Homo sapiens: one gene and its partners. The protein of the gene in region 2 interacts with the protein of the main gene of each other region in a biochemical or structural test. Each region holds a gene or a part of one and is shown on either strand. Other genes may lie near its edges.

The links. Proteins that work in one complex are often made in the same cells at the same time.
Region 1: the proteins of EIF4E (region 2) and IPO8 form a complex in vitro, tested with the Homo sapiens proteins (2 studies listed by BioGRID and IntAct, with this or other methods).
Region 3: the proteins of EIF4E (region 2) and OTX2 form a complex in vitro, tested with the Homo sapiens proteins (one study listed by BioGRID).

What each region holds. Positions count from the first base shown.
Region 1 is NC_000012.12:30,629,857-30,636,878, reverse strand, and holds part of IPO8 (importin-8), read left to right. Parts: intron 1-2,592; coding exon 2,593-2,796; intron 2,797-4,867; coding exon 4,868-4,984; intron 4,985-5,921; coding exon 5,922-6,019; 3' UTR 6,020-7,022. UniProt on the Homo sapiens protein: Involved in nuclear protein import, either by acting as autonomous nuclear transport receptor or as an adapter-like protein in association with the importin-beta subunit KPNB1.
Region 2 is NC_000004.12:98,898,127-98,905,148, reverse strand, and holds part of EIF4E (eukaryotic translation initiation factor 4E), read left to right. Parts: intron 1-3,166; coding exon 3,167-3,273; intron 3,274-7,022. UniProt on the Homo sapiens protein: Acts in the cytoplasm to initiate and regulate protein synthesis and is required in the nucleus for export of a subset of mRNAs from the nucleus to the cytoplasm which promotes processes such as RNA capping, processing and splicing.
Region 3 is NC_000014.9:56,807,467-56,815,291, forward strand, and holds the start of OTX2 (homeobox protein OTX2), read right to left. Parts: upstream 3,014-7,825; 5' UTR 2,910-3,013; exon of another isoform or gene 2,757-2,909; 5' UTR 2,693-2,756; intron 1-2,692. UniProt on the Homo sapiens protein: Transcription factor probably involved in the development of the brain and the sense organs. Can bind to the bicoid/BCD target sequence (BTS): 5'-TCTAATCCC-3'.

The sequences.
Region 1 (7,022 bases), on a different chromosome or scaffold from region 2:
TTCGGCCTGCTACACATATAACAAATATTTTGGGCTTGGTTGACTTGCTATTAATTGTATCATGCTATATAAATTTAGATTTATGCACCTTCTGACACCTAATATACTCAGCGGTTTTTTTTATGGAGCCTAATAGATGCTGTTACACATTAGGAAACACATTTATAACAATCAAATGGTCTTGACTGTAAGTTAGCAATCTAGTATCTAACTTTCTTGTTTGTGCTAACAGCCTCATCAAGGCAGTAGCCATGAGTTAAATGAATCATTACATTAAGAGCTGAAGTGTTAGTACCACAGATTAGTAGAGAGTGTCTTTTTTTTCTTTTTCTGGAATGGTTCTTAGGTGACTCATTAGCAAAAATTACATTTGAGAGACGTCCATATTTGTGATTTAAATATAAATTAAGGTAAAGTACATAAATGAAGTGGATATACTTGAGAATCAGAATAAGATTGTTAGAGTTGAATATTAGACCTTTGTTTTGTTTAATGATGAGATTGCGGAGCTACTTGCTAGAGACTAGGAAGTAGCATTCTCCTATTCCAGGTGGATTTTTTCCTCTCCTGGTTAAAAACAGATACTTTGTTAGCTGAGAAAAATCAGAACTCTTCCTGGTAAACATACAGCTCTATTTTTGATGCTAAATTCTGTGATTTTAGCATGGATAGATTTAAAACACTTTTAACTGGCATCATCCCAGTTTGTTCATATACCAGAGATTATAAACTACCCTTTTTCTCCCCTCCACAGCACAAAATACAGCTTCTAATTTGTTTTTCTGAAATCTGTGTAGGTCTTTTGAAGAAATGCTTCTTTATTAGAAGTGTTGCATGTGTGATTTTTGTTTTGTTTTGTTTTGTTTTTAGCTAACTGTGTGTCAACAGTTGTAGAATTCTTTTATTTTTTCCAGTATGTTATGATCTCTAATTTCTTGTTTTGGCAACTCTTTATTGGCTTATACTGTATGGCTTGAGGGAAAATTTTCTGGTAATATCCCACACTTTCTTGTACTTCCTACTAAAGTATGGAATGATTAACTAGTGGAGGTATTTCTCAGTCTTTTTGTATTAATAGTTATAATTTGCCATGCATTTTTTCGTGTATTTGGTCCAAACTCTGGTTAAGTGCCTTATTCCTAAAACTACCTAGTTCAATCTACCTGCTTCAATATGGTGTGTCTAATAGAACTAGTTTTAGGTTAATATTACCTGGTTTGGGTTTACTCCAGGATTTCTCTCTTATCTTGATTTTTGTTCTGCATTTACTGCCTTCCTGTTCCAGTATTTCAGTTACAATCTAACTGCTAGGAACAGATTGACACTGAAAATAGATACAGAATCCATGGTGATACATAATGTAGTTCAAGTTTTTAACTTTTCAAGCGACATGTAGCTATTTTTCTTTACATTTTTGCTATTTCTTTTTATTATAAATTAGCAAATTATATATTTATGGAGTACAAAGTGATGTTATGATTTGTGAATATAATGCGGAATGATTAAATCAAACTAATATATCCATCACCTTAAATACCCTTTTTAATGGTGGGAACATTTGAAATTTACAATCTTGCCAATTTTGAAATGTACATATACTATTAACTGTATTCACCATGCTGTACAATAGATACCAAAACAAAACAAAACAAAACAAAAACCTAATTCTTCCTGAGACTTTGTACCCTTTTACCAACATTCCCATATTCCCACCACCTCTAGCCTCTGGTAACCACCATTCTATTCTCTACTTCTATGAGTTTGATTGTTTTAGATTCTATGTATAAGTGAGAACAGGCAGTATGTGTCTTTCTGTGCCTGGCTTATTTCACTTATCATAATGTCCAAGTTCATCAGTGTTGTTGGAATTGACAGAATTACCTTTTTAAAAGCTGAATAGTGTTTCATTTTAAAGAATCCACATTTTCTTTATTCATCCGTTGTTGATGGACACTTAGGTTGATTCTGTAACTTGGCTATTGTGAATAATGCTGCGATGAACACAGGGCTGCTGACATCTGTTCTACGTATTGATTTAAAATATTTTAGATATATATCCTGAAGTGGGATGGCTGGATCTGTATTTTTACTGTTTCTACTAGCAGAAATGATCTCATTTGGGCATTTCTAAGCACTTTATAATCAACTCAGTTAATTAAGAGGACTGAATTCTCAATAGGAAGTCATTGTTTAAAACACATGCACTGACCGTACAGTCACTTTTTTTTTAAACAAAGGTAATTTTGAAATCTGCAATTGAATAATATTCTTGTATTAATGAACTTGCATAGCCTAACAGTAGTAATGTTCATCTGGATAACAGGTTTAGGGAACTTGTTTTCAGTGAGGAGGATAAGGACATTCTCAACTTAGCAAACTCTACAGTAAAGATAAGGTTTATTTATTTTATTTTTTATTTTTATTTTTTGACTCTCCTCTTTAGACCAGGGATAAGATTTATTTTTATTAAAATTTTGTGGAAGATTTTTTCCTTTCCAGAGTGTAGTTTTATAGTCTTTGGTTTTTGTCGTGAAGTTTTATATTTTGTCCTTATGTGTTTTGATTCCTTTTAAATAATTAATGGGTTCACAGAGGAGATTTCAAGTGATGAAGAGGAGACAAATGTAACTGCTCAAGCAATGCAGTCAAATAATGGAAGAGGTGAAGATGAGGAGGAGGAAGATGATGACTGGGATGAAGAAGTATTGGAAGAAACCGCGCTTGAGGGGTTCAGTACTCCACTTGACCTTGACAATAGTGTGGATGAATATCAGTTTTTTACACAAGCTCTGATAAGTATGTCTTTACTTCCCCACATCTTCTGATATTTTTTTTTCTAAACTCTTTCTTCATTTCTTCCTGTTTTGATATTTGCCCAAGATTGGTCTAGGTTCTTTTAAAAATTTTTTTGTTTATTCCTTATGATAGAAATCCCCAAACATACATACATGAAATGATAGAAATTAAAATAATGAAACACCTATCACCCAATCCTAGCAGCTTTCATCATTGAGAAGTAGCAGGGTGAGCCTGTATGTTATCCTTGCAAAAGTAATATGTGGAGTATCTGTGTATATTGTTCATCCTTTAGGCATAAATGGGCAAGCATTTTTATAGCAAAGAATGAAGTGTTTCAGGCATACATTGCTTAAAAATTGTGGCTAACAACCTACTAGTTATTCACAATCCCTAGAATGAAATTGCTGCCGTAAGAGGGTGACTTTTTACTTTGTAAGTAATTTGCCAATTTTATACAACAAAGAACAGTATAATTACAGTTACAGGACTCATAAATGATTCGGGGGGAGAAAATATTTGCCACATATGCATAATAGGCATAATGTACACAGTGTACAGAGGCCATCCTCAGATACATAAGACCAGTAACCTAGTAGAAAATGGAAATGGAAAATTTACAGAATAAAAACAAGCCAATGAGGATATTTAGAAAATTATTAATCAAATAAATTATTTTAAATCTCATTAATATAGATTATTTGTTTTATGGTTAGATAGTATTTCCATAGTTACATTGTAATTTAGTTCCACTGTGGGACATTTAAGATTGTTTCCAATGTTTTTACCATTATGAGGGTTATTAAAATGAACATCCTTACATGTAAATGTTTTTACTAATAAGGCAATATTAGCTTAATATATTGGCATTTTTTAGTGTTGCTACAAATAACATTAATGAAGAAAAAACTACCTAGATGTTCTTATTGAAATTCAGAGGAATTGGAGGCAGAGAACACAGGAAACTATATTCCAAAGCATGGGAAACGTAACAGCATAAACGTGGAGATGGAAATATGGAGGATGTGGCCTAGTGTAGTTCCAGACATGGGTGTGTCATAATCACCAAGGAGGCTTTTAGGTCTTGAGTAGGATCTCAGGAGATGTATTTTTAAAGATGCTTCTCAAGTGACAAGCAACTTTAAACCAGCATGTAGGGGCCACTGCTTAAAGACTGTGAAGGAACGCAGTTGGGCTGGGCTATAGTGGCCTTGAATTCTGGACTGAGGTGGTCCATCCCATTGCCCATTGGAATAGCGTTGAAAGTTGTGTTCTGAGGCGGTGACCTTTTAGATGTGGTAATTCACTTCAGGGGAGTTACCCGGTGATGGATGATGTGCAGAAAAAACTGGAAAGGACTAGATGTGGGAGCCAAGTGTTAGAGGTTCACTTTATTAATTTAGATGTATAGAGACCTGGAATGGGGAGGGTGACATTTGATGGAAAGCAGCATACAGATGAAAGACATTAAGAAAGAAGCAGAGCTTTGGGTGTGGAGAGGGCATGCTCAGGGATGTTAAGGATGCACAGTAGTGGACTGGGAGACTAATAGAACTGGTGAGATAAATGGAGAGATAGAAGGTTTGGGAGGAAATTGTTAAATTTGGTTTTAGTTGTGTTGAGTTTGAGATGAGCTATTCAAATGGAACAGTCCAGGAGGCTTAGGGGAAGGTTTTTCCTAGAGGTACAGATTTGAATCCTTGGGGTGGTAGCAATACTAAAGCTGCAGGTAGTATGAAAATTCCAGAGGAAAATGGTAACAAGTGAGTACTGGTGTTCTGGATTTTAGAGAACATCCATAGAAGACAGCAAAGGAGACAGAGAACTAGGCAGACTAGAGATTTGCAATGTCCTAACCTTCCTTTGATTTCCCACATAGCTGGGTACTAAGTGGGTACTCAGAAATAATCCTTTGTTGGCGTAAGTTTCATTACCTTGTGTGTGTTGTAGTACTGTACTCTTTGTCTCTTACTGTCTGGGATAATTTCTTTGTAATTTGATCATGTTACTACTTGTTCTGTAAATTAATAGTCGCTGTACCCTCCTGTCTTTTCCTCCCAAAATGCAACAGCTGTGCAGAGTCGAGATGCAGCCTGGTACCAGCTGCTGATGGCACCACTCAGCGAGGATCAGAGGACAGCACTGCAGGAGGTGTACACACTGGCAGAGCACCGACGGACGGTGGCAGGTCAGCCAGAGTAACCTCCAGAGTGGAGTGCATGTGTCAGAGTGCCAACAGACAGCCTTATTTGATGAGCCAGGTGGCACCTAAACACTGTTTTTGAAATTGTTAGAGACTTACCCTTTAAGATAATAAGGAATTGTCATTATTGTATGATTGTTTTAATCACTCATGATGTCTTAGCTTTGCAAAAACCTGCACATTAATATGTATTTCCTAGTGGTGTTCTCATTCACATTCTTATCCTATGTTGGAGGCAAAGGTACAAAGTAAGGGTTGGGATAAGTCTTGCCGAGGGAGACTTAATCAGTTGGATCACTCCCCTAAACATTTCAACCGTGGGCCAAAGGGACTTGACGAATTCTTGCAAGGAGCTTGTATTCCTGGAAATGGAATGCTCTCTATTTCTCATTGTTGGGCTTTATTTGACATTGTTTCTTGTTGTTGATTTTCAGTTTTTAAGCTGGAGGAATTACTCTGTGTTGATTATTGTAGTTACTTGTAGATTGTCATTGGAAAAGATTTTGTAGTTACAAAAAAATTTTAGTAGGAAACATGGCAAACTAGACATCTAGAGTTTAGAATGCTGGCTCTTCTGCATGGACTTAGATTTTCAGTTCTGTGCAGATTCTCAGTCAGCCTTCCTGATATGAGAAGTCTGGGCCCCCTTTCAGCAGTAGAGACAGTGAAGTAGAATCCACCTCTGAGACGTGTTTTCTTTTCACTCGTTTTTTGCAGATTTTCCGATGGTAGTGAACATACCACCTTATTGACATAGGTCTGTTATTCTTAGTTATTCTTTGGCAGGATAACTAATACTACCAGTCACATTCTTTCACAGTTCTAAGCATATAAAGAATCTGGCTCCTTTGAGTCATCTCCAACTTTGTCACCTTAAGCATTCTTTTTTTTTCTTCTCCCCTTTTCTTTTGAAAAATGCTAGAGGCAAAGAAGAAGATTGAACAACAGGGAGGCTTCACCTTTGAAAACAAAGGAGTCCTCTCCGCATTTAATTTTGGGACTGTGCCCAGCAACAACTGAAGGAAAGAACATCAGCTGACCAAATGTCATCGCTGCATTTTATTTCACAAGAGGAGTGTGAGGGTCAAGGGGATGAAATGAGGGGCTGCTTTTAGGGCCCTCCTGCTGTGCCAGTTACCATCTGGCATTAGGCAGCACTTTTATCTACTCTTTCCCCTTTGACCTTTGTCACCCTGAAATATATATTTTAAACAGCTACTGTAAGTATGAAATGAAAGAAAAACAATCATTGGACGGAAAAGGACAACCCATATGTTCCAAAGGCTGAATGCCCAAGGTTGTTTTAGAGGATTGGATAGACTTGCACGTCTCAGGTTTTTGCCATGCAGAATCAATGGATTTATGCGGATAACAGTGCCTTCTGTTGTACATGAATTATCAGAAAAAAATTTTTGGAGTGCATTGCAATTTTTTTTAAAGCATAAAACATATTTCTAGATACAACATAAACCTTGGTTATATGTCAACTATTCTGCATTTTACTCTGTGAATTTATTGTTAGGCAGTTACTGCAAGTCACTCTGGTTTCAAAATCTTCACGGCTCCCTCTGCTCACCCTGCTGCTGGGGGGCTTTTTTCAGGGGTTGTATTATAAAATATGCACTGGCTGTGGTTTTTCATAAGATGTTTTGTGGCTTTTTAAAGAAGTGTCTTACTCCCTCTTCTCTCATTTTTTTCTGCCTTGAAAAGGGGTGGTATTTCTTTTGGGGTCAACAAATACACATATCAGTTTCACTCCTAACCTTGTAAGTTCAGGACTCATTTTCTTGGCAGCAAGTGGCAGGGGCTCTTTAGTCACTGGAGTTAACAGTAAGTCTGAGTATATTCTGAATAATGTAATTATGCAATTAATTGATAATCATACCTAAAGCACATTGAACTTCTAAGAGACAGGTGCTACGTAAGCACACTGTCTTTCTGGATGGGGACTTGTATTTTAAATAACTTATCATTCCAGCTATGTTGGACTAGGGTCCAAAGCATTTTATAATATTTTTTTTTA
Region 2 (7,022 bases):
AGAGTAGAGAGAGGAATATGGTAGGATTTTGCAGTAGAGTTTTGTTTTTAAACTGAATGTAAACTTAAAACTATTTAGTGTCTATAGGAAGCAATCTTAAAAATAAGGTTAGATACCTTAAAATAGAACTTGTTTCTTGAAATATTTTTTAGTTCCCATATAGATCATACGAAAAGATGACTGTCTATGCCCAATAAAAATTTTTATGGTATTTCACATCATTCGTTTTAAAATCTAGTATGTTTAAAAGTGAAGACTAAAGATTTTAAATTAGTATACTTACTGATTCATACATACACACATATTTAAAAATGTGTAGCTCCTTTTTTAAGTTGTTGGAAAAGTACAAAATCATGTGTCCTTTTTTGTTTTGTTTTGAGACTGAGTTTTGCTCTTGTCGCCCAGGCTGGAGAACAGTGGCACGATCTGTGCTCACTGCAATCTCTGCCTCCTGGGTTCAAGCAATTCTCTTGCCTTAGCCTCCCCAGTAGCTGGGATTACAGGCGCGTGCTACCACGCCCAGCTAATTTTTGCATTTTTAGTAGAGATGGGGTTTCACCATGTCGGCCAGGCTGGTCTTGAACTCCTGAGCTCAGGTGGTGCACTTGCCTTGACCTCCCAAAGTGCTGGGATTACAGGCGTGAGCCACCATGCCCGGCCGATTATGTGTTCTTGATATGAAGACTATAGTAATCAGTTACTTACAGTGGGACTTTTATTTTAATTCAAAATAACACTTTAAAATTCTAGGAACTGAATATGTTTTTCCTGAGTGATAACTTGCTTTTAATTCCTGTATGTCCAAAGACTTGAGAGAGAGAGAGAAAGAGGATTGTTTCTTTTTCTTTCTTCCCCTTTCTTCACTGGGTCTCACTTGCTGAGGCTGTTTTCGAACTCCTGGACTCAAGCAGTCCTCTCGCCTTGGCCTCTCAAAGTGCTGCAATTACAGACATAAGTCCCTGCACCCGTTCTGCTTACGTTTCACAAATACTGGGCAGTTGCAAGTTTTGGCTTAGCTGTTCTTCTCTGTTAGGCCAACCAGAGTTACGCTCTGAAAGTGCCAGTTTAGGAGTTAGCCAAAAACCTGTGAGGGATTTTTACATATATTGAGGAGCCCACTTCTCATCTACAGCAGTTTTTCTCTGGTACCCTGTCCCCCAAAGCCTACCTGCCTGCCAGTCTCTCATTGTTTTCATCGAGACTCCCACTGTCTGCCTGGAAACCCATCATTAATTTTAAGCTAGTGGGATAGGAAATGTCATTCAGTAATTATCTGTTTGAACACTTAAATTTACTGGTAAGTAAATGTTGATAAAAATGTTTGGTTTTAAGGCATTACTTACTGTATGTCAATTTTCAGGCCTTAATCATTCTGTGTAAACATTTAAATTTATTCAGTTAAGTAATCAAGTTAATAAGTTCCTGTTGGGTTAAGTACTGTGATTATTGAGTAAAATCAAGACATGGTCTCCGTTCTGGGTGACTTTATAGGCTAATAGAAATTCTTGTACATGTCATATGTTGATAAGAAAAAACATATCCCTTGGGAGGCCAAGGTGGGAGGATTGCTTGAGCTCAGGAGTTTGAGACCAGCCTGGCCAACATGGTGAGACCTTGTCTCTACTAAAAATAAAAAAGAATTAGCCAGGTATCATGGTGCCTATCTGTAGTCCCAGTTACCGTGGAAGCTGAGGCAAGAAGATTGCTTGAGCCAGGGAGATTGAGGCTGCAGTGAGCTATGAGTGAGACCCCATCTCTAAGAAAAATAAAATACAAAAAAAAAAAAAACCCATATTCTTTCAAATAAATATTTACCACCTTTCTGCTCTGCATTCTTTTAGACAATAAATATTTGACTTACATATCTTGTTATGTTAACATAGATCTCTGTTGTTTGCTGCTTCAGTCTGATATCCAAACACTTGTTGCATTGCCCTTTTTTTGGTATCAGTCTTTGTCCTAGTGCCTTTCTTTGGCTCTCTTCTTTTGTTGACAACAATTTATGATAGTATGAAGAGCTACATGGAAGAATGTGGTGAACACCTATTTTAAATTACTGCCCCCAGACTACTTTTCTTTCTGATATTTTTAGATGACAGTGTTAATTTTGTCTAGCCTAAAAGAAGATTTAAGTTCAAGCCAATGTCCATCTTGTTAGGTTCCATTGAAAATATTAAGTTGCCGAACTTTTAGGTTACGATAGGGTAAACAGTATGCCATGAAGGTAAGACCTGCGCATCATTGGCTTGATCACTTTACAAAGCTTTTTTGTCATCATAATGTTGTTTTGTTTTGTTTTGTTTGTTTTTGAGACAGGGTCTTGCCGTGTTGCCCAGGCTGGTCTCAAACTCCTGGGCTCAAGCAATCCTCCTATTAATCCTCCTATTAATCTCCCGAGTAGCTGGGATTGTAGAGACGCACCACAGTGCCCAGTGATACAGTTGTTATACTCTTGAAACTTTAGTTTCCATCCTGTATCCTTCCTGATACCCCCTTCAGTACCATATGCAGTATCTTAATATGATGGTATGTTAAGAAAGATAGAAGATTTTCCCAACTTTGTTGCATAGTCTGTGACAGTCTTCCTGCTATTTAAAAAAAAAAGTGCAAGTGGAAGGATAACTATAAATACTGTTATATTTTCAAATTTGAGAAACCGTTTGCTCTTTGCTCTTAATGAAGAGATATGAGAATAGAGAATGGTTCTTTAGAGTTTGGTCTGTGGTCTGTTTTATGAAGCAATCTGCTTTAATTCCTTCTTCTTAAAAAATACTACTAGTGCCGGGTGTGGTGGCTCACGCCTGTAATCCCAGCACTTTGGGAGGCCAAGGCAGGTGAATCACAAGGTCAGGAGTTCAAGACCAGCCTGACCAACGGGGTGAAACCCCGTCTCTACTAAAAATACAAAAATTAGCCAGGCATGGTGGCACACATCTGTAATCCCAGCTACTTAGGAGGCTGAGGCAGGAGAACTGCTTGAACCTGGGAGGAGGAGGAGGTTGCAGTGAGCCAAGATCGCACGACTGCACTCCAGCCTGGGCAACAGAGAGAGACTCTGTCTCAAAAAAAAAAAATTATCAGCATATCAGTTCAGGTTTAGTTAGAATATTGCTGTCATAGATGTGTTAAGACATTTAAAATAATGTTTTATATTATTTTCCACTAGGAAACCACCCCTACTCCTAATCCCCCGACTACAGAAGAGGAGAAAACGGAATCTAATCAGGAGGTTGCTAACCCAGAACACTATATTAAACATCCCCTACAGAACAGGTAAGCTTTCTAACACCTAGGTTTTCTGAGTTAGGCCACAAGGTAAATTGTGAATGGGGCAAGTTTGAAGGGAAAGTTAGATTATGAGACTAGTTTTAGATATGCTAAGGTTGAGGGTTCTATTTTCACTTGGATGACCCATGACCAGCAGACAGTTTTATGTGTGAGTCTTGAGTTCAAAAGGAGCTATGTGAGAGATTAGTTTGAAAAGTATTGGTCATAATGGAAGCCACATTAGTAAATAAGTTCCCTTAAGGAGAAGTGAACTTGACTCAGGACAAAGACCGGGGATACTAGCATCATATAGGAGGCTTTTGTTGAAGAAGAATGCCTATGAAGGATGGACATACAAAGACAGTGGTGGTCGCCCAACGCGGTGGCTCACGCCTGTAAACCCAGCACTTCAGGAGGCGGAGGCGGAGGCGGAGGCGGGCGGATCACCTGAGGTCAGGAGTTTGAGACCAACCTGGCCAACATGGTGAAACCCCGTCTCTACTAAAAAATACAAAAATTAGCTGGGTATGGTGGCAGACGCCTGTAATCCCAGCTGCTCGGGAGGCTGAGGTGAGATAATTGCTTGAACCCAGGAGGTGCAGGTTGCAGTGAACTGAGATCGCGCCATTGCCTGCCAGCCTGGGCAACAAGAGCGAAACTCCATCTCAAAAAAAAAAAAAAGAGACAGTGGTGGTCATGGAAACCAAGAAGGTGGTTTATTCTAAGATAGGGTGGTTTACAGCACATGTGCTAAAAAGGTCAAATGAAGCAAGATGTCAAAATATCCATTGGATTGAACACTTTTAAAAAAGTCCGTGCTGACTTGGGAAAAAGTTTTTTAGTAAGGTTCCATAGAGTAGTTCCATAAAACATGGAAAAAGAGATTAGGGCAGTTTGAAGAGTGAATAGGAGATATACAGATGTATAGAGTAAGAACAGGTGACTTGAAGTTGGACTGAGAATGAGAAACGAGAGCCAGGGAATGTGGAGTTTGAAGGTTGGTTGGTTTGTAAGTGAGAGACTAGAAAAGGGGACAGATTAAAATTAGTTAAGTTTTCATAGTTAATAGTGTAACAGGAAATTGAGTATTAGTTCATTATATGGCTTTTCCCAACTCTTCCCACTCCTTTCCAGTAGGTTTGTTTTTATTTATTTTCTGGGGTATATGAGAATTAACTTGAGTTCACTGAATGCTGATGGTGGGAAGAAAATGGCAGTTCAGAAACATTGTAACAATCTAGAGGAAAGTAAATTGGAATTAACTTCTGAGGTTCTTGAAGTATTTCAGTTCATTTCTTGTCTTTTTTTGTTTTTATTTACTTTTTTTAGGGCAGACCATTCACTCTCTACTTAAAAGAGTCCACAAGTCTATTTATAATTGTTTCATTTATTAAAATTTTTTTATGATCTCAATTTTTTTAAATGTTTCCTTTATTCATCATGGAAGACCTACTGAAATAAATAGTTCAAATATGCTGTATGCAGTTTTCTCATAGGAGACCCTTTGGTTCAGTATATCCTCCAGTGAGGAACAAATCAGTTTTTTAGACAATGGAGATTCTCAGCTAGTGGGACATCAGAGGTCAAACAGTCTATAAAGGATAAAATCCTTCCTCAGGGAAGCAATGTACCACATGTATTAGGTTGAACAATTCGTTAGAGGCAGTCTTATATAGTTTAACCTAATAGTAGCACCAAAACCCACATTTTTTTTTCATTTTTTTCAGTGATATGAAACAAACTGTATATCTTCTAGCTGTCTGTGAACCTAGTTCTTGGTGTCACTTTTATTGTGGGGAGAAGTAAACAAGGCATATATCCCTCACAGCTTGAATGGAGTCTAAGAAGGGATTCTTAAGTGTCCTCATCAGTTTAAAAAAAAAAAAAAAGTTTAAATCTTAAAATGAAGTCTCTGGGGACTTCAGTTTCTCTATAAATTCTACTTTTTGTGTAAAATAGCAAGTATCATTTGGAAAAATACTATGTTTTATGGCTCCAATTTTGGCAGTTTTCTCATTATTTACTTCTTGCATTTTACTTTCTTCACTCCCCAGAGTAGTCAATGTTAAATTTGGTTTGTATTCCAGAAGTATTAAATGCACATATGTATACTTTTTAATACATACGTCTATACAGTTGACTTTTCTGTTTGTATGTGCATATTTTACCTCATTGTTTTAAACCACCGTCTTGCATTATATTGATATACCACCATATATTTTATTAGGTTTACATTAATGGCTGTATAGATTTTTCTTTTTACACACAGTGCTGTAATTTACATCCTTACATAATTGTGCACTTGTGTGAATATATAGGGTAAAATTTCAGATCTCCTAGAACAAAGATTACCCTTTAACAACCTTTGCGCAGATACTGCCACATTATTCTGTTTTATTGGCTTAGACTTAACAGTTTGAGAGTTCCTGGTTTCTATATCCTTGCTAACTCATGTGATTAGTCTTTTAAGTTGTTGCCAATCAGATTGGTCCCAGTCTGATTTGGGAAAACAATTTCAGTATTTTCAATTTGCATTTTAAAATTGAAGTTTCAAAATATTTTCATATTGATGATTTGTGGTTTTTATCTGAGGACAGATTATTCAGTTCTTCTATTTTTTTTCTTTTGGATTATCTTTTTTTTCCCCTACTTTCAAGCTAACAAGTTATGGAATATCTTTTCAAGTTTATTTCCAAGCATTTTATATTAGAGTGCTAACTCACCCAAGGCAGGGAAGTTGGAGGAGTATTAAGTCAGAAAGAAACAGGTTATCCATATCATTTGTCTTCTAACATTGTCTGTGGAATTGTATGGTTTTTTTTTTTTTAGAGGTCTTTAATTTTCATGTAGGCAAATACTGCTTTTCCTCAGTGGTTTCTGGGTTTCATATCAATTTTAGGAAAACTTTACCACACAGTTAAGCTTTTTTTTTTAAACTTTTTAATAGTTGCATAGTAGTCACTTGCGTGGATGTATGATATTTTATTTAAATCAGCAGTACTCAAGTATTTGGTCTCACAATTCCTTTACACTCTTAAAAATTATTGGTGACTCTACAGAGCTTTATGTGGATTTTTATCTATTGTTATTTACTATATTTTTACAGTAAATAATGCTAAGATGTTATTTTATTTTTCACATTTAAAAATGTATAATTTCACCTGAAAAACTTGAGAAATGTAAAATTATTCGTTTAGAAAATCTATCACATGTTAACCTAAGTGACATTTTGTAATGAAAATAATTATTTGAAATAAAAAATATATAATGGGAAGAACAGCATTTTTGCCATCTGTTTTTTTTTTTTTCGGAGTCTCGCCCTGTCGCCCAGGCTGGACCTCCACCTCCCGGGTTCAAGCGATTCTTCTGCCTCAGCCTCCCTAGTAGCCGGAACCACAGGTGTGTGCCACCATGCCCGGCTAATTTTTGTAGTTTCTAATAGAGACGGGGTTTCACCATGTTGGCCAGGCTGATCTTGAACTCCTGACCTCATGATCCACCCACCTCGGCCTCGCAAAGTGCTGGGATTACAGGCATGAGCCACCGCACCTGGCCGCATTTTTGCCGTCTTAGAAGTCAACTGGATTTTCATAGCTGTTTCTGCCTTCAGTCTATGGAGTTAAGATGTTTCATTGGAAGTATAAGAAGACAATACAGCCTCACACAGGTATTTGGTTGGAAAAGGGAGAATAGTTTTTAAAAGCCTTTAAAAATAATTGTTGATATGCTCCTTTGATACACTACTAGGTTTCTTT
Region 3 (7,825 bases), on a different chromosome or scaffold from region 2:
CATGTAGAGCTCTCACCCAATTAGAAATGCCTGACACATCATACAATAAAGTAGCACATTCCAACATAAAAAGCCAGTAACACACAGAAAGCACCAGGGCCGAGATCCTTCCAGGGGCTCCTTTGCCCTTACCATTGCAAAATGGCTAAAATTCTCAAAATAGACTATTTTCACTTTTGCTCCTGGATCCACCTTTAAAAGGAAAAGAGGAAAACCAAAACCCAAAACTAAGAGATTCTCTCCACAACCGGCCTAGGTATGCACTCTGCATAGAAGGCATGGGCCCTTCAATCTAACTTTCAAAGCTCTTTTCCTCTCGAAGCAGGGTCCAGAACGGGGAAAAGAAATAACTTTTGAAAAATCCACGCCTCACTATGACTGCTCACGAGGTGGCCTCTGGAGAACTCATACCTAGAAGCTGACCGCGGTCGCGCGGCGAGTTCCGGCAGCCGGTCGGCGACCGCACCTCCGGGCGCGAGTGCCTGGGTCCCGCGTTCCTGCCCGGCAGCCCCGCAGCCCCGCAGCCCCGCAGCCCCGCAGCCCCGCAGGCCTGGCGCCCGAGGTCCCGCTCCACTGCCCGCGCCCCCCGCGCAGCCTTATATCTAACGGTCAATTCGTGCAATCTGTCGCTTCTCCCTCCCCCACGCCTTGTTTTTTTTTTCTTCCAAGAAGCCCATCTACCAGTTGCTGTGTCCTCGCTCAACAATAATTACCTCGTCCGAGAATTAATTATAATAAATGTTTTCTTGATAAACTAACGAGATAATCCGAGGGGCACACGTCCCTTAATTACAGGCCGCCATGCTCCTCTCTGCTTCTCGTCCGGGCTGATTAATTTTCTGCATGATGGAAAGGAAACAAAACTACGCGGACTGGCGACTGGCCTGCGGCTGGGAAGACGACGAAGAGGAGGAAAGAAAGAAAAAGGAGACGTGTGGGCACCGCGGAAAACGGCCGGCGCTGGCCTCTCTCCGGCGAACTCGAGTGAAAGTTTCTGGCCTCGGGGAATCAAATAACTCTGCCACCCGCGAGGGAGGGAGGAAGAAACGTGCCAAAAGGGTTGGCCTTGACTATTAATTATCGTTGGGAGAAAGCCCCGGTGTTAGCGCTGAGGTCTGGGTGTCTACCTTACTCTGGGGGGAGGAGTTCCCTCTCCTACTCCCCTCTGTTGCTAATAACTTTTGGTGCCTGTAAAAAGTCCCGAGCTGAGCAGGAGAAATCCTGACCCCGAAGCTCTAGGATGGAGGGGAGAATTTCTAGGAGCGACTTCCCCGTCCCCTCCCCAAGCAATCCACCACCGCAGGGTCGGCGCCGCTCGGCCTTCGCTCCCCGCGCACCAGTTCTATCTGTGAAGGAAGCAAAAGCCAACTCGGTGGAATCCTGACAGGGGACTTGGGTTTCCAAAAATATGTCCCGAAATCGGGCATCGATTTCAAGAGTCACTTGAACGCAACAACGCGAAGACTTCTTGGGAGTTTGCAGAGCGACCCGTCGCCCGCGCCCGGCGCTGGCAGGGACCTTCGGATGGTTCTTACTGGGCCGATCCATGGCACAGGCTGGGCCTCGGCGAACCCCTCGGCCCCCGCCCGGCCCCGAGCCACGACACCTCATTGTCCTGGAGCCTGGGAAGGGGGTGCGCGAGCGCGCGGGCGAGCCCTGCCTCTCCCCGCCAGAGAACAGCTGAGGGGCCGCGGTCCCAGCGGGAGGATTCCGGTCCCTGGCCCGGCCGCGGCCTTGGGCGGAGCAGGGGCCACTAGCTGCCACTTCTGCCCGCCCCAGGTGCGCGCGGAGGGCTACGTGGGGCGGGCCGCGACCCGGCAAAGTCATGTTGAAAAAACACTCTTCACGTTCGCTCGGCCTGGTGACCAGGGTCGGGGACCACGACAACCGGGGGTTGGGAGGCTGCGTAATTACAACCCAGGGTGGTTTGGATTTTGGGGGGTGGTGGATATTTAAAAACAAAAAGGAGATCTGGAAGCTTTTGGGAGAAACAGACAACCGAGCTGTGCTAGGCTGAGGGAGAGGAGGCCAAAGAGAGCGAGCAGTGAGCGCCGGGGCGGACGAGAAGCCAGCGCTCCCAGCCTCCTCGGTTATCCGCTCCGGTTTCCGCTCACGTTCAACAGGGGCCGACAGGGGCTCGAGCGGCGGCCCCCGGCCCAGGCCGACCCGCAAGCGAACCGAGCTTCCGGCGCGCGGGCCCAAGGAGGCGCCTGGCTTTTTATTATTGTTGTTTCAATCCATCCATCTAGTTACATCTGCATCTTTTTGTCTCGGACTCTAAAAAGGTCCCTGGGATCCATCCAAACGACCCCAACCAAATCTGGGGGCCAAAACGCAAAGATCGCGGGAGAAGCCCAGAACGGCGTTGACATAAAAACAAAACCACAAACAAAACCTTCCAAAACACCCCAGATTACATTCGCAGCGTTTCGACGACGTTTTGCAGAAGCGACGACCCCCAGGAGCACGCTCTCTGCCTCTCTCCCACTACCGCTCTCATCTCTAGATCACATTTTTCTTTTTGCAACGATCGTTATTACACCTCAAAATTTGTAAGAGAAAAAATACATCCGCCTACAGAACTCCACGTTCGCAGAGGGGCATCGGTCGGTCTATTGGAGGTACTGGGGTGATGGCCGACAGACACGGGGACACGTAGATATGGATATAGACAAGACAGACGGACACTTACCTTACAGCCTCATGGGAGGTTAGAAAAAGTCAAATATCCTTTAAATTCCAAATAGCCAGCTATCCTAAAAGAAATCAAGAGTATTGAGTTAGAAACCTTGCAGTCTTCACCCTTCCATGAAAAGTCAAACACAACCAAAAAAAATTTTTTTTAAAGAACGAAAATGAGGAAGGCGGCTAGAGTTCTAAACACGCGTGGGCCCCTCTGCAATACATACAAAGTAGATGTGGCGAGTGAGGGCTGCTCTAGCAATTTTTATTTTTAATCACAGTGGAGGCTGTGTTGGAGCTGAGGCCGGTCCCGCTCTCAGGGAGATTTGCTGAGAAAGCGCCTCTCTGGCAACTTTTTGACGCAAACTCTCCAACCAATGGCAGGGAGAGAATGATTGACACATCTAAGCCAGAGGGAAAATAATAAAAACACACAACAGGGGGAGGAAAACAGGCCGCTGCTGCACGGGGGGACGAGCAGGCAACAAATCCAGGCCTCCGACATTACCAGAATGTTCTTTAAAGACACTGGGCTTTGCTTAAAATATACATTATGGGCCGGAGCATGTGAACTAATTGTATAATTAAAATGATGGACAGGGAGTTCTTCTCTTACCCTCTTTTCCCCTGCTTCCTTTACTCCGAAATTTCCTTTCCTCTCTTTTTTTTTTTTTTTTTTTTGTTGTTGTTGTTTTTAGGGAAGGGAAGAAAGGAAACCCATGCAATGTAAGATGGAAGATAAAAATATTTAAGTAAATGCTGGAGAATGGCGGGTTAGGGAGTGACTGGGTTATCACATTCAACCCCAGCAATAAGTGTGTGGATGACAGGCAGAAAGCAAGTCAGACTGAAACTCAAAAACACCACTATGCCGTCTCAGACAGGGCCAGAGCACGCTGACGGCCAGAAAGGGTAAAGGAGGGAGGCCTGGGAGTGCGATGTGGGCATGTAGGGAAAACAGAGAGAGAAAGATACACAAGTCCAAGAACAAACTATTTTCTAAAACTCAGTGTCTTCTCTATTCCCTACGCCCTTATAAATATCCTTACACATATAAATAAATGATCCCCGAGTGAGAGACCCCGGCTTCTGGTAGGTTCCTGGGGTTTTTTGGAATTGAGAAGCCCACGACAGACTGCAGGGAACACGAACCCCGGAATCTAATCTCAGGGCCCATTTAGGAGAAGTAGCTGGGACCACATCGGGCCTCGAGGATGCGAGTGTGAGGTCGACAAGATATCGTGGAAGAGAGCGAACGAGGGAGGCCCCCGTTGGAAACAGTTTCTGTGTTAGAACAAACGCCACCAAACGACCGACACTGCGAGGCCTGGAGCTACCTGGGCTGGCGCCGCCCGAGCCCCGGGCTGCGAGCCCAGAGGCTGGGAAGTGATGGGACCTGGGGGCCCGAGCCGGAGAGTGCGACCCCCAGCCCAACTTTTTTGCCTGGCATAGAAAGCAGGGACCGGACAGGTTTCAAACGGATCCGAGTCCCTAGAAAAGCAAAAACAGACTGGGCGGAGTGTGGGGTGGGGGGTGGCTAGTGGAACTGGTGAGTGTGTGTGAATAAGCTGGGTGGGGGTGGGAGCAGAAGACAGCTCTTGCTTCACAACACCCAGTGCAGGAAAAGAAAAATAAAATCTCTTCCTAAATACCCCACCCCCCGCCACCCACCCACCACCAACTACCATCACCACCACGGCCAGTGGGCCCAAAGAAACAGCTCGCTGCCTTTAATTTGGGGACCTATGTTAATGAAGTTGGTAATTAATTCGTCGCTTTGTTGTCGGTTCTTATACTGTATGTGTACTCAAATGTGGCCGTCCTTGGGATTTACAGCAATTAACGAATTACGGGAGTGCGCACGAGGCAGCAAGCTCTCGGCAGCCGGGCTCCGGCTCGGGCTCGGCCTGGGGCTGGGGACTCCGCGGCAGCGGCCCCTGTCACAGGTGTCCCTAGAGCTTTGGGCCCTGGCGGCCCCTCGAGCCCCCGAGGGGCCCGGAGCCCGCCCAGCTCCTTCCCGGCCCTCTGCAGCAGCTCCAGTCCGGAGACCCGCTGGCTGTCGCGTTCCCAGGAGTCAAGAGTTTCTAGGGGCCCGGGCGGGGGGGAGGGTGAGTACCGACCTTTTTTCTCACCCCACCCCCACTGTACTGAAACACCTGGCGGCCGCCCCCGAAGCCTTTAATGGGGATGGTGGTGAGGAGGGGGTAACAAATGCCCCGGGCGTTATGACCCTCGTGGCGCTGGCTGTCGGAGGCACTGGTTGGGTGCGCTTGGTCAGAGTCATGATGCTTTCGATGAAGGAAAGGCAAATCCACCTCGATCACCTGAAGCAGAGTCTCCTTCCTACCCCTAGAAAAGACAACGTTTCCCCCAGTTTGATCACAATGATGTTTAAAGCATAAAAGAGCCGAAAAAGAAAAATGGACGTTGTGAATCTGGCAGAGGGGAAGGCCGGAGGAAGGCCTTGGGGACAGTGGGCATGGGGTGGGATGGAGAATGATCAGAACATGCGCTTGTGAGCTAAACCAAGTAAACCATTTTGGACTGGGAGATCCATCTGCCGTAGGGTCCAGTGTCCAGGGTAACCTTTCAAGCCCGATGTAGAGGTTTGCGATGTCCTCCCAGATGGCGGGGGCAGCTGAATCTCCCTAAAAATCCCCCTGTTCTATTCGACAGGGGCAGATTTATGCATGGTGGGGCGTGAGAGGGTTTTGCCCTTCCAGCGGCCGGCAGCAGACAGCTCCCGCTTCTCCTTTGCCCTCTAGTCTAATAACTTCGCAGAAATACAGGGCCAATAAACTACGAGTTGGAAATGGACAGTGTTAAATAAACAAGGGTCTCTTTAAAATTCTCATCCACTTCAGATGTCTAAAGTAAGATTGTGATGATTTTGTCACGGTTTGGTAAATTTACCCCTTTAAGAGGCTTTCATAAATCCCAGAACACACCTTCAGCCAGATTTGAATATAGATTTAGGTTTTAAAACCCAGAAGCTGGAAACACCGCTTTATCAAAGAGAATTTCCCTTTAGCTTAGCAATGTGCTGAAGCTCTTAAAAGATTGGATCTGAGAGAGAGAGACAGAGAGGAGAAAGAGAACTAGAGACAGAGAGAGGCAGACAAGGAAGGGGGGGGGGGGTGAAAGACTTTCTTTTTCTTTCTAGAGGAATTCTGCCCAGACTCTGCAGCAGTTGGTAGCAGGCAAGCTTTCTCCTGGGTGTCGCCTTGAAAAGTTGCAAAATTGCTCTTCACCTGTAAGAACATGCTCTTTATCTTCCAGTCTCTTCTTGTCAATTTGGAAATTGCAGACTGCCCGGCTCAGGTACAGTCCCCACAAACCCTATTCTAGGTCAGGACAAAAGCCACTGGCTTTGGGGGAAGGGGGCTGGGCTCTTTTACTGAAAACCTTAGATGCTTGGTGGGAGAAAAAGACTCTTTGGATGAAAAGTCTAACTCTTGATTTTCAGTAAGTTCTTGAACTTCCAATTTACCTAGTATCTGTTCATTGTATTTCTGTGTTTAACTTTTTTTCTGTGTCCTGTGTCGTTAACATTTTTTTTCTATGAATCTGACTTATGGTAGCATGCTTTGTGTTTTTAAATAATTTTCATTAAAAAGTGGATGGTTTTTAATTGCCACTTGTACAATTATTTTGCTACGCATATGAGATATAAGCATTCAGAAGCTAAATTAAGAAAGCCAATACGAAGGGAATCAAATTATTTGTCAGAGCTTGTGTGCAGTTTCTAGAATATGTCTAATATGCATATTTTGAAATCAAGATTCATGTGTGGCACTAACTAGGCTCAATTTCTCCACCGCACAAGCCAGGCCAGTTTAAAATATTCCAAACTTTCCTCCAAGTTTATTAACTTTGGTGGGGGGAGTGGGGGAGGGGGAGGGGAGAGAAGACATCCCGGGATTCTTCCAGGCTAATTAAAAAAGAAGAACAAAACCCATATTCCGTGAGAACATAGCCTTTTGGGGGAAAGGAGCCAGTTAGACTTCCTTAACACTGAATTCAGAAATATGAACATTAATTTCCAATCTTTTCAGCAATTCACTGGACAGTGAGGGACTACATTTTGCCTTAGAAGCACCATAATACCTAGAAAGAAGTCATTTTTTCATTAGGTTTTTAGATATATCTTTATTATAAACTTTGAGGAGATTAACCTTAATTTTTTTAACAAGGATTTAAGACTGGAAATGCAGACAAAATTTAGGGGAAAAAATAAGGCAACAGATCACTTATAAATTAAGCTTGGGTCTCTCACTCCCTGCATTGCGGTTGCCTCAAAAAAGAGGGTAAGGGAGAAAGAAACAACTTCAAAGATAGGATTGGGCTGTCTCGATAAAAGAGTAGGGAGGCAAACTCCAAATGCGAAAAAGAGGAAAAGAGGACCATGTTGTTCCGGAATGAAACGGATTAAGATTGTGTGACAAGTGCGAGATGTGGTGCTGTGAGACATTTATGAGCGGAGTGTGAGCCGGGAGCTGTGCCTCTGTCCCTGAGAGTGTGGGGACCAAGGGTGTGTGCAGAGCAAGGTTAGGGTGAGGGATAGGAAGGGCATGTGTGGATGTGAGACAGAGAGAAGTGTGAGGCAGAGTGTGTGTGTGTGTGTGTGTGTGTGTGTGTGTTAGAAGGGTGTGGACGGGAATGTGGATGGATTGATGAAGGGTGGTAGCTGTCAGTTTACATAATTTTCATCTCCTGGTCCTGAAGTTTCCTTGAAATCAATTCTACTGCAGGCAGCAGCCTTGAGCTTACAGAGCTGATATAAAACAACCATTACAGTCCAATATCTTGCCTGTTTGCAAACTTCATTTAAAACTGGGGAAAAAAAAGACCCAGGAATGGTTTTGTAAGAAAGGAAAAAAGAAGAAAAGAAAACCACAGTGAAGCTTTAAACTAGTTTGGATAAATCTCTAATCTTTTATTTGTAACCTTTTACAAGCTTTATTTCCCGTATATGAAAAGCTTCTTTTATATGGGCACGACAGACTTTTCCTTTGGATTTTTAATTAGAGTCCATCAATTGTAGCCATATTTAAGAATCAATATAAAGTAATCCTTCGAGATGGGATAAGGTTTTAATCGAAAATCTAATTTCCCACTCTTTGCAGATCATTTTAAGAGGCTG